3 separate regions of the Homo sapiens genome follow, and regions 2 and 3 are each reported to be linked to region 1. The links are microRNA targets in miRTarBase. Many come from high-throughput screens and were not tested one by one. Region 1 holds a microRNA gene; each other region holds the end of a gene's coding sequence.

Region 1 (3,250 bases):
TTAGGGCAAGATCTGAAACCCAGGACTTCTGACATACTGTGAAGACTCTTGATAATTTACCTACAAATCCCTCCATTTCTTTTTGTAGGAAGAAACCAAAGAGAAAGAAAATTAGATTTTAAGGCTTGGTGAGGGTGGCGGTTTGCACGAACAGGATGGATTTCCCCTGCTCTTGTACCAGGGTCCTAATCAAACTCACATTTGAAGTCCCAGAACCACAGTGTTCACAGAGCCCTGCATAGGTGTCAAAGCAGAGTGGAGTCCAGATTCTAGTGGCTGACTCTAGTGCGTGTGATGAGAGACCTTAGGAAGGAGGAGAGGCCAGACAGACCCAGAGCTGTGGGCTGGCTCTTCCTAACTGGTCCAACATGGCAGACAACCTATGCACCGTTGAGATGCTGAGACCATCTAGAGGATATGCCCAGTCCCAAAAACACATAGTGGAAGAATGTTGATACTGGTTCTCATGTCAGAGGTCAGGCAGGGAGGGTCTCAGTCACTTAGCCTTAGCTCCAGTTTCTTCAAGATGCACATCTCCAGCCTAATGCCAAGTGGGAGGAAGTCCCAAGTCAGCAGGTTCATGGAAACTGACCCTGATCTATCACAGAGAGGAATATAAAAACTGGGTACCCTCACCTGGGCCTTTGGCATCCTGACAGTGGTTATTGGTTCATCCTGTTCGCTCCCATAATTTCCAGCTAAGGAAGAGAACAAGAAATCAAGAAGGACCCCAGAATTCAGTGTCTTCCCCTCAGACTCATCACTTGGCTTCCCTTTCCTTCCTTCTCTTAGTCTCAAAGAGGCCCTTCATCAGGAGGCGCACTGGCCACCATCTCTGTGAAAGTCAGTGTTCTCAAACAACAACTATGATTGCAGGTTCCTCAGTCCAAACCCTACGGCCCCATTTGTTTTCCTGTCTTTCTCTCTGGCTAGAGAGATATATTTTCTTTTGACACCCCACTGCTCCTCTATTAAACCTCAAATGATCTGGGATGAGTGTCTATCAGCCAGAGCATTCCTGCTGACCTCAAAGGATATAAAGGAGACTCCTGAATTGTGGAATGTCAAAGGGGGCTTTTTCCTAAAGAACAGCATTGAAGGTTTGCTAGACCACTGGGAACTGTGGATTGTCTCTTGACTTAAGGGGCTAGAGGAATGACTGTGATGGAACCACTCAGCTGTTGGGGGGATTGGGCCTATGTTGCAAAGCATGCAGAAGATGCTTTTCTAAGTTTAATGTCTTGTCAGACCAACTGGTGTGACTGAATGGAGTTTAGAGGCTCAATTCAGGCATGTGATAGGATCACAGATGTCTGAGTGTTCTTTCTTTCCTTGGGAAGGAACCATGCTGTCCTGAAGCTCCCGAGTATGGGCATCCAGTGATTTCCCTCCCGTTCTTCTCCCTTCCTACTGTGTCTCCCTGGGGTGGGGCACAAGGGCAGCAGGGCTGCAATCTTCGGAAGTGTTCCAGTGGAACCCCACTCCTGATACTAATCACGCTCAGTGGGGGCCTGCTCCGGCTTCCGCTTCTCCACGCTGCTTCCTCTGAGCGCTCCTGTCCTCTCTCTGACGCTGCTTCCTGACCTTGACTCTGACCAGTCGCTGCGGGGCTTTCCTTTGTGCTTGATCTAACCATGTGGTGGAACGATGGAAACGGAACATGGTTCTGTCAAGCACCGCGGAAAGCACCGTGCTCTCCTGCAGCATGGCCCGCCACCGCCGCCACCACCGCTGGACACCTCTCCTCTGCTCTGGAGCACCGCAGCCCACCACCTGCCAGACCCACCTCTCCCAGTCTCAACTCACCAAAGGCAGGAGGGTAGGAGTCTCAAAGGATGCAGATACAGAGGGAAATGGGTCTGGAGAAGCACCCTGGGGAAAGAGATCTGTATCCACATCTCTTTCCCAAAATGGAGTCACCCTCCCCCAAATCTAGTCTGGATGTCAGACAAGGAGTAATAACTAGGTTCAAGCTCAGAAACTACTGTGTCTCTTCTTCCACTGGAAGGGAACAAGTATACCCAAGGCATACGCCCCATGGTTTCATGGGAGAGTCCCAACCCAAGGTCATTTTTCCAAGTGGCAGCTAACCCAAAGGGGAATTCCTACTGCTTGTGACCCCCGACCCCTCCCACCACCACCTTTATTGGTATTCACTTTATTTGAAATGAACGTCAGCATGAGAATGGGTGAAACTCATGTGAGTCTGAGACTTTGGGTTTAACCCAAGGTTCCTTCTGAACCTCATTCCCATACTTTATGAAAACACAGTCCCTGAACCCCATGAAACCTAAAGTCCAGTCTGTTTCCTTGACCTGCAAAGCACAGTTAACGTGGAGGTGCTGGGCTCCTCACCTGGTGCTAATTCTGTTTCAGGGGAGGGGAGTGTGTGTGGACGTGGAAACCTGCTATCTCTGATAATAAAGAGAGGGATCTTGGTACCTCTTATTTTGCTTGTTCCTTGATAAATCCTAGACCCAGTGTAACCAGAAGACTGTGTTGTTCATTCCTGTCCTGGAGTCTTTGTCCTATTCTGCAAGAGAGAGCTAAGGTGGGAACTTTAGCCTAGCTCAGAACTAGAAGCTGAGCCCTGGGCCCCCATCATGAGGTGTGACTCTTATTACCTCGTCTATCTGAGGTTACCCCTCAGAACCAGGAGCCCAACCATTGCTTAGTAGTTTTTTAACATACATTGAGTGCTTGCTATAGGCCAGGCAGTGAACTGTTTTCACATCATTACCTTGTTTAATGTTCACAAAATCTAAAGTCCCACTTTACAGATGAGGATATTGAGGCTCAGAGAGGTTAGCTAACTTACCCAGGGTCATCTGATTCCAGAATGGCTGCACTGTACTGCTGTAATACCCACCTTCCCAGCTGTGGACAACCCCATTGCCTTGAATTAGAACATTTAAAAACTGTGATTTGATAGGGACTTGAAATTTGCTTAAACTCTCCCTTTCAGACTTTCATCTGTTAGTAGAAAGAACTTGAGTAAGAGAGAAAGCATTATTCAAATGGCTGTTCCTCTCCAGCATGGACATACAAAGATCCCATTTAACACAGAGCAAATCCTCGAGCCTGGAGAAGTTCCCTTTCCCACCTTACAGAGAGGGGCATTCTGAGGCCCTCGGCACTGCCCCTAACATGGCAGGGACCAGGCCTCTGGGAGTGGGTCCATAATGGTGCCCTTCCATCAGTGCTTTACTGGCCCCGCAGCCACAGGCTGTGATGAGGCAGTGCCAGCCTC
Region 2 (3,250 bases), not on the chromosome of region 1:
TGGAAAGGGTCTCCTGTCAGCACCTCAACCCCTTGCTTGGCAAGCAGGGAAACTGAGTTCCCGACAGCTCAGGGACTTGCACATGGTCCTGGGTGAAGGAAACACAGGGCTTGAGAATCAGAAAAGCCTAACTTGTAGCTCCCTGGCTTATTAGCCGTGTGGCCTTGGGAAGTTATTTAACCCCTCTGGGCCTCCTTTTCCCCATCTGTGAGACAGGGATAAACACGATTGTTGGAGGATGATGTAAGGGTGTGTGTCAAGCGTCCTTAGGATGGTGCCTGGCGGGTAGTCCTAATACTGCCTATCATCAGCTATCATGGTTACAAAAGAACCATTTCTTTGCAGGAATAAAGCCGGTTGGTTGGACAGTGAGCTCAACATGTTCACACACCAGTACCTGCAGCCCAGCAGATAGTGGGCACCTGAGGCGGAGTCTGCGTGGAGAGGGGCGGTGCTGCCAGCCCTAAGTGCCATGTGGGCTCCCCCAGGGGCACGTGTGGCTCCTGCCCCCTGGCCACTGCCAAGAGAATGAAGCACCCAGTCTCGTACCATTTTGAGCCCTCCAGCACTACTTATTTTCCCCCACCTTTGCCTGCTGTTGCTGGAAGAGCTGGCTCATACCCCCAAAGGACACTTTCAGCGACAGCTATGGACAGCATGGTACCAAGGAGTTAAGTTGAGGCTTTTTCCAGCTTTCTCTGGTTCATTTGATTGCTTGATAAGGCCTCAGGATCTCAGCATTGCACAATGCCTCATGGAAGCCTTTGAGGGTATCACACAGACACCCCCACCTTCCTCCAGCCTGTGCGCACCTGCCCTCCTTGCAGCCCAGCACACCTGCAGGTGTAAGGGACGATTGGAGTTTCTTCCCAGAGAGTCTGTCCCAGAAGGACTGTGGCTTGTGTGTGTCCATCTCGCCTGTTGGCTCAGTGCTTCATCCCATTTGCAGAGCCTCAGACACGTCTTGGTGGTGAGGCTCAGTTACCCCTGGGCTTAGGCTGAGGCGGGCCCTGTGCTGGGGGTGGTAGAAAGGATGCTGCTGAGGCAGCTGGAGGAGTGGGAGTAGCTCAGAGGGGAGGGCTGTTGGATGTATGGGGAGCTGGCAGAGCAGGTGGCAGTCACTGGGACAAGGAGGGACTTGCCTCTCTTCTCATTATTGTGTCCTTTGCTTTAGTGTCAGTCCTGGACTTGTGCAGGCCTGTTTTGTGTAGATCTGTTTTGGAAGATGGCATGGTCTAGGTGGTTGAAGGATGTAGTAGAAGGATGGATGGTGGAAGGTGGGGACGTTGGTGGCTGGCTGAGGTGCATGGGCCCCACACAGGACAGCTGGAGAATGGGCCGTCCACTTGGCCTCGTTCTGCGAGGGGCTCATGGGTCTGAGAGCCCCCACCCACTAGGCTTGATTGCATCCCTGTTGTGCCCTTTAAGAGACATGTTTCCACCCCACCCCCAACCTTGTCCCAAGTGCCCTGGACTAAATTTCCTGTGCCAGTGACTGCAGTTGGCCAAGGGACAATGTGGAAAACCCAGTGTCCATCTTTCCACCCTCCCTGATCTCCAGAACCTTCGACTGACCCCCTTGTCTTTATGCTGATGTTGAGTTTTGGGATTGTTACTGGTTGAAGTGGGGGCAGATGCCTGTCACCAAGGTGTTGACTGTGTGAGAAAAGCAGTTTGGGTGACAAATCCTGTGTGGCACAAGTTGGATCGCTTCCTAGAAATAAGCAACACCTCTCCCAAAAAGCAGCCCACAAGGCAGGGGCCCAGCAGCCCAGCCATCACTCATCTTTGAGGAAATGAGTTGGTAGCCTCTGTGCACTGTTTGGTGGCCACATCACAGGTGATGTCCTGTTCACATACCTGCTTGTATTTAAAGCCCTCAGTCTGTCCTGTTGTGTGGGGCGAAGTGATGGACTCTGCCAGGTGGACATGCTGTGGGTGGATGTTCCCGGCGTGTGCCGGGCCTGAATGGACAGGGGCCACTTCACAGCATGTCAGGGAAAATCACTGTCACACAATTCCAATGGATTTTGTGCTCTTTTTGAAAAAAAAAAATTCTTTAGCGTAAACATGAATTTTTTTTCAATGTAGCCCCTGGGGAATGAATGAAATTTTGAGCTTCTTCAATACGTAAAATTAAATTTATACCACTGAGGGAGAGACCCTTTCTGAAAGAAGTATGGCCAAAAGCACTTTAATGCTGCTGACATTGTTGTTTTTATGTTCATTTGCTGGAGCGCAAGACGTGCTGACACAGTGAGTTTTCTCTGATGTATTTAAGGTGATGTATTTGCTTGAGTTACTCCTGTATCATTGCTCATAATATTGGAAACTAAAATAAAACCTAGTTGGAAATCCTTTGTGAGATCTGTCTTTTTGGGTTCTTGTACAAACTCCTCTTTGACATGGCCAGCTGTATTCTGAAGTGACCATAACTTTGGGGAAGTTCCCACTATAATCTGGCTCCTTATTCTTGGAAGGAATTTGATACTCTCAAAAGAACAGATGGTTTAACTGATCTTTAAGGATCAGGAAATCGAGACTGATTTCTTTACAGATTTCTCTGTAACTCCAGACCATTTTTCACTTAAAAAGTAAATGACTCACTGTTCCATCCTGCTTTGCCTTCTGAGAATTTGGTTGCCACTATTCTTTTTTTTTTTTTTCTTTTTTGAGATGGAGTCACGCTCTGTCGCCCAGGCTGGAGTGCAGTGGCACGATCTCGGCTCGCTGCAAGCTCCGCCTCCCGGGTTCAAGCAGTTCTCTGCCTCAGCCTCCCAAGCAGCTGGGATTACAGGCGCCGACCACCAGGCCTGGCTAATTTTGGTATTTTAGTAGAGACAGGGTTTCATCATCTTGGCCATACTGGTCTCAAACTCCTGACCTTGTGACCCACCTGCCTCGGTCTCCCAAAGTGCTGGCATTACAGGTGTGAGCCACCGCTTTTTTTTCTTTTTTTTTTTAAGGGTCCTCAGGAGTAGATACAGGGGTAGTCAGTCAGTTTCCCCGCCCCTACAGCTGTCCTCTTGGCTCTGGTGCTGCCCAGTGTCCGCCCTGCTCGCCCACAGAGGCCACAGCTCAGCTGATAGCAACCTCATCCTTCCAGATTCCCAGGCTACACACTTGGGGCATCACCCTCGAGTCCACGGTCACACGTGCTGCACCAAATCTGTCACCTGCTGTCTTCCAAGTCTGTTGACCCTGCCCAGTTTCCTCACCTCCATCATAACCATCAGCCCGGATCTAGGTT
Region 3 (3,250 bases), not on the chromosome of region 1:
GAAGCCCCGGGAAGCAGCTCGGCATCAGAAACAACCTCGGACTCTGGGTTTGAACTTAGGTTCCACCATTTGCCACGGCTGGGGACCCTGACCACGTTGCCCTACATTGCTGAACCTCATTCTGTTCAGCTGTAAAATGGGCATGAGAGCAAGCACAGCCTGGTAGAGAGGATCCGTGGAGAATGGACGTGCTCCCGCAGCGCACTGGTGCCTCCTAAACTGTAGTTGTGACTTTGTTGTTACGCTGGACCGGGAAGTAGGCGCTGGGTGACCTTTCTCTTGCCCTCCTCCCGCAGGTCACCGAGGAGGAGCCCAGCTCCAACCACACGGTCATGATCCAGGAGACGGTCCAGCAAGCGTCCGTGGAGCTTGCCGAGCAGCACCACCTGGTGGTGTCCTCCGACGACGTGGAGGGCATTGAGACGGTGACTGTCTACACGCAGGGCGGGGAGGCCTCGGAGTTCATCGTCTACGTGCAGGAGGCCATGCAGCCTGTGGAGGAGCAGGCTGTGGAGCAGCCGGCCCAGGAACTCTAGAGGACATGTGGCATCGGATGGCCACAGGGCGGGGCTGCCAGGCTCTGCAGGCACCCAGGGTGGGGAGGCCACCCTTCCTGCCCTACCCGCAGAATGGTGCTCTCCTTTGCCCTCCCTGCCCAGCAGCCTGATAGGACTCTCCTAGTCCAACTTGGGGTGGGCAAGGCAGTCAGCATCACCAGCAATACCACAGGACCCTCACCCCAGCATAGACACACACCCCCTGACCCTTACCATCTGCTTCCTGAAAGACTTCAGTGTCAGCTCCCCTACACACACCCCACACCTTCACCCCTTGCTTCAAGATTCAAACAGAGACTCCCAGTCCCCCTCAGCATCTTCCCTGAATCACAGCCCCAGCTCCTTGACCCCCATCTAGGTGCCAAATGTTCATCTGCAACCGCTATGCAGTCTGGTGAGAGGGAGACAGCCATCACATAGAAAGTGACCGTACGGGTTTTTAATCACTGCTGGGTGGGGTGGGGGTAGGGGGATTGTCCTGGCTTTGTCGACAAAGTCCCACTTCCCCGAGTATTAAGGGCCCTTGGTATCAAGTGAGGTAAATTCACCCATCACAGGGTCTCGCCCTACCATCCTGGAATTATTTCACTTTTAAGATAAATGCACTATTTCACTGTTCGCCTCCCATTCTAAGGAGGTGAGGTGGTTGGAATAAAAACAGTTCCTGTCTGAATGCTTTGGTTCTTCAGGCGGGATGGCTTACATTTCCCCTTCCCAAGTTGAAATCTTGGATTTGGGGCCCACCCAGAAGGACCCCATCCAAACCCAGGCCCTTAAAATGCAGATGGTGCTCTTTCCTCTGCATTTAGGTTTGCTTTGGAAACCTTTTGACGTTAATGATCTCACCTTCCATTTCCTGGCACCCAGCATTTGATTTGCTGCCAGCCAAGAAGTGGCAGTGCCCTCTTGTCCACTGTGTATTTGGGAGGAACAATGCAATGACCATCAGAGGTGTCATAACACAGGACTATGTGACCAAGGTTTCTAGTCTGGGTGCTCAACATAGATGCCATATGTTTGGAACTCCTGCTCTGTGCACAGCATTGTGGGGGCATTGACTTGAGTCCTGATACACCCAGCCTGGCCCTGGGGTGTCTTGACATCTTCACATCTGACACCCTGAGGTCAAGGTTTGTTTCCTCCGAGAACCCTTTCTTGCAATGAAATCTGATGCAGGTTTAGAAGCAAATAAAAGAGTAGCCACCCTGTTGAAGAGGGCAGAGTTCACTTGGCCCTCCCTGTTACCAGCCCTCTCACCTCACCCCAGCAGGGCCTGAGGGCACCTCCTGGGAGAAGCTTAAAAGCTGCTTCTCTGATTCAAGTAGAAAAGTGACTCCTTGCCTTAAGCAAGGAAGAGGGAGAACACTGCTGACTTGGGATGAGTTAGGGAAAGCTTCACGGTGGAGGTGACCTGTGATAGGGCCTGGGAACCTAGATGGGCTTTGCACCTCCAGGGATTGGGGTGGGAGGGAGTGGGAAAGGAATTCCAAAGAAGAGTCACAGCGCCCCCTGGGGTGGGCAGTGTGGGAGATGGACTTGAGCCATGAGAATTTGTGTTTGGCTGGGAGCAACTCTAAAGGGAAGGGCAGAAAAATCAGCAGAAGCCAGATCCTAGAAGAGCAGGGATGTGAAATGATGGATGTGGATTTTACTCTGTAAGCTGTGGGGCAGGCAGTGGCATTTGATAGAGGAGGGGAAGGGTGAGGAGGTCAGGGTGGTTCTCCAGAATGAGACATCTTGCCCATGCATCGGTGTGGTCTGTGTTGAGATAGGTGAGTGCCCAGCTCACAGGCAGAGGACCTGGGCTCAAACCCTGCTCTGTCACTTATCCACGTGACCTTGCCATGCCACCAGACCTCTTAGCCTTAGTTTACCCATGTCTGAAATGGGTCCGAGGATAATCGCTGACTCCTGATGATTAAAAGGATTAAATGAGTGAAGCCCCTGAAGCTGTTAGCAGTGTCCTGGCCCACACTCTGGAAATATCACAGATTGCTTGTATTCCTGGCATGGGGGTCTTAAACATGAGTATCCCTCACACTCCTCCCTCAAGGGCATAAGGTAGTGGGGGGGGGAGGCCGTGAAGGTGGCCTGGGAGGACTCCTGGGGTGTGCTCTGTGCTCTGCGCAGCCTGAATGCGGAGCCTGCCCTGCCTGGACACACAGACCCTGTGTACTTCCCTTCCCTTCCTGTCCTCTTGGATTACGAGGAAATGCAGGAAGCTGAGGTGAAGCATTGCCTGTGGTCCTGGCTGACCAGGCCTGGTAGGTGTGTGGGTGGGGCAGGCAGGAGGCCTGGTTCTCCGTGGTTCTTTCCTGGGGAGCTGATGCTGGGCTCAGAGGGGAAGCTTTCAAAGCCAGTGGTCCGTTCATGTGACTGTGAGATGGAGCTTCTCACTGCTCCCGACCCCCTTGGCTGTTGTTTTCGGGTGCTTTTTGACTCCAGGTGTTTTTTGTGTCAGGCAAGGTAAAAGCTTGTGCTAAAAGGCTGAATTCTCTACCTCCCTGTTTTAGAATGTGTGTAAAGTACCTGCTGTGTGCCAGATACCATACGAGGCCCTTTCATGGGCATCTTCCTATTCAGACTTCCTGTCCACCTGTGTCTTCCTAAGACTGAAGACTGGCACTTCTATAGAGCTTACTCTATGTCGGGAGTATGGGTGTTCTCATCACAGCAACCCAGTGAGTTTGGTG

The links. Region 1 holds the annotated microRNA hsa-miR-218-5p (UUGUGCUUGAUCUAACCAUGU, at 1,618-1,638, shown strand). A microRNA usually pairs through its seed, bases 2 to 8, with sites in the 3' UTR of a target mRNA and lowers its output. Matches are read on the target gene's strand: a 7mer-m8 pairs with bases 2 to 8, a 7mer-A1 pairs with bases 2 to 7 and ends in A, and an 8mer does both.
Region 2: the mRNA of MFN2 is a reported target of hsa-miR-218-5p. The part of its 3' UTR that is shown has no 7-base or 8-base seed match.
Region 3: the mRNA of ZFAT is a reported target of hsa-miR-218-5p. The part of its 3' UTR that is shown has no 7-base or 8-base seed match.

What each region holds. Positions count from the first base shown.
Region 1 is chr5:168,766,599-168,769,848 of GRCh38, reverse strand. It overlaps MIR218-2 (microRNA 218-2), which reads left to right and starts at 1,594; the gene lies at 1,594-1,703. The region is part of intron 14 of SLIT3 (slit guidance ligand 3); the gene reads left to right.
Region 2 is chr1:12,011,151-12,014,400 of GRCh38, forward strand. It overlaps MFN2 (mitofusin 2), which reads left to right. Exons shown (of 19, transcript NM_014874.4): 19 at 346-2,358. The coding sequence ends at 415. Among named protein-coding and RNA genes, the nearest start is that of MIIP, 6.7 kb to the right of the region's middle.
Region 3 is chr8:134,475,768-134,479,017 of GRCh38, reverse strand. ZFAT (zinc finger and AT-hook domain containing) reads left to right here. Exons shown (of 16, transcript NM_020863.4): 16 at 297-1,230. The coding sequence ends at 536. Among named protein-coding and RNA genes, the nearest start is that of ZFAT, 240 kb to the left of the region's middle.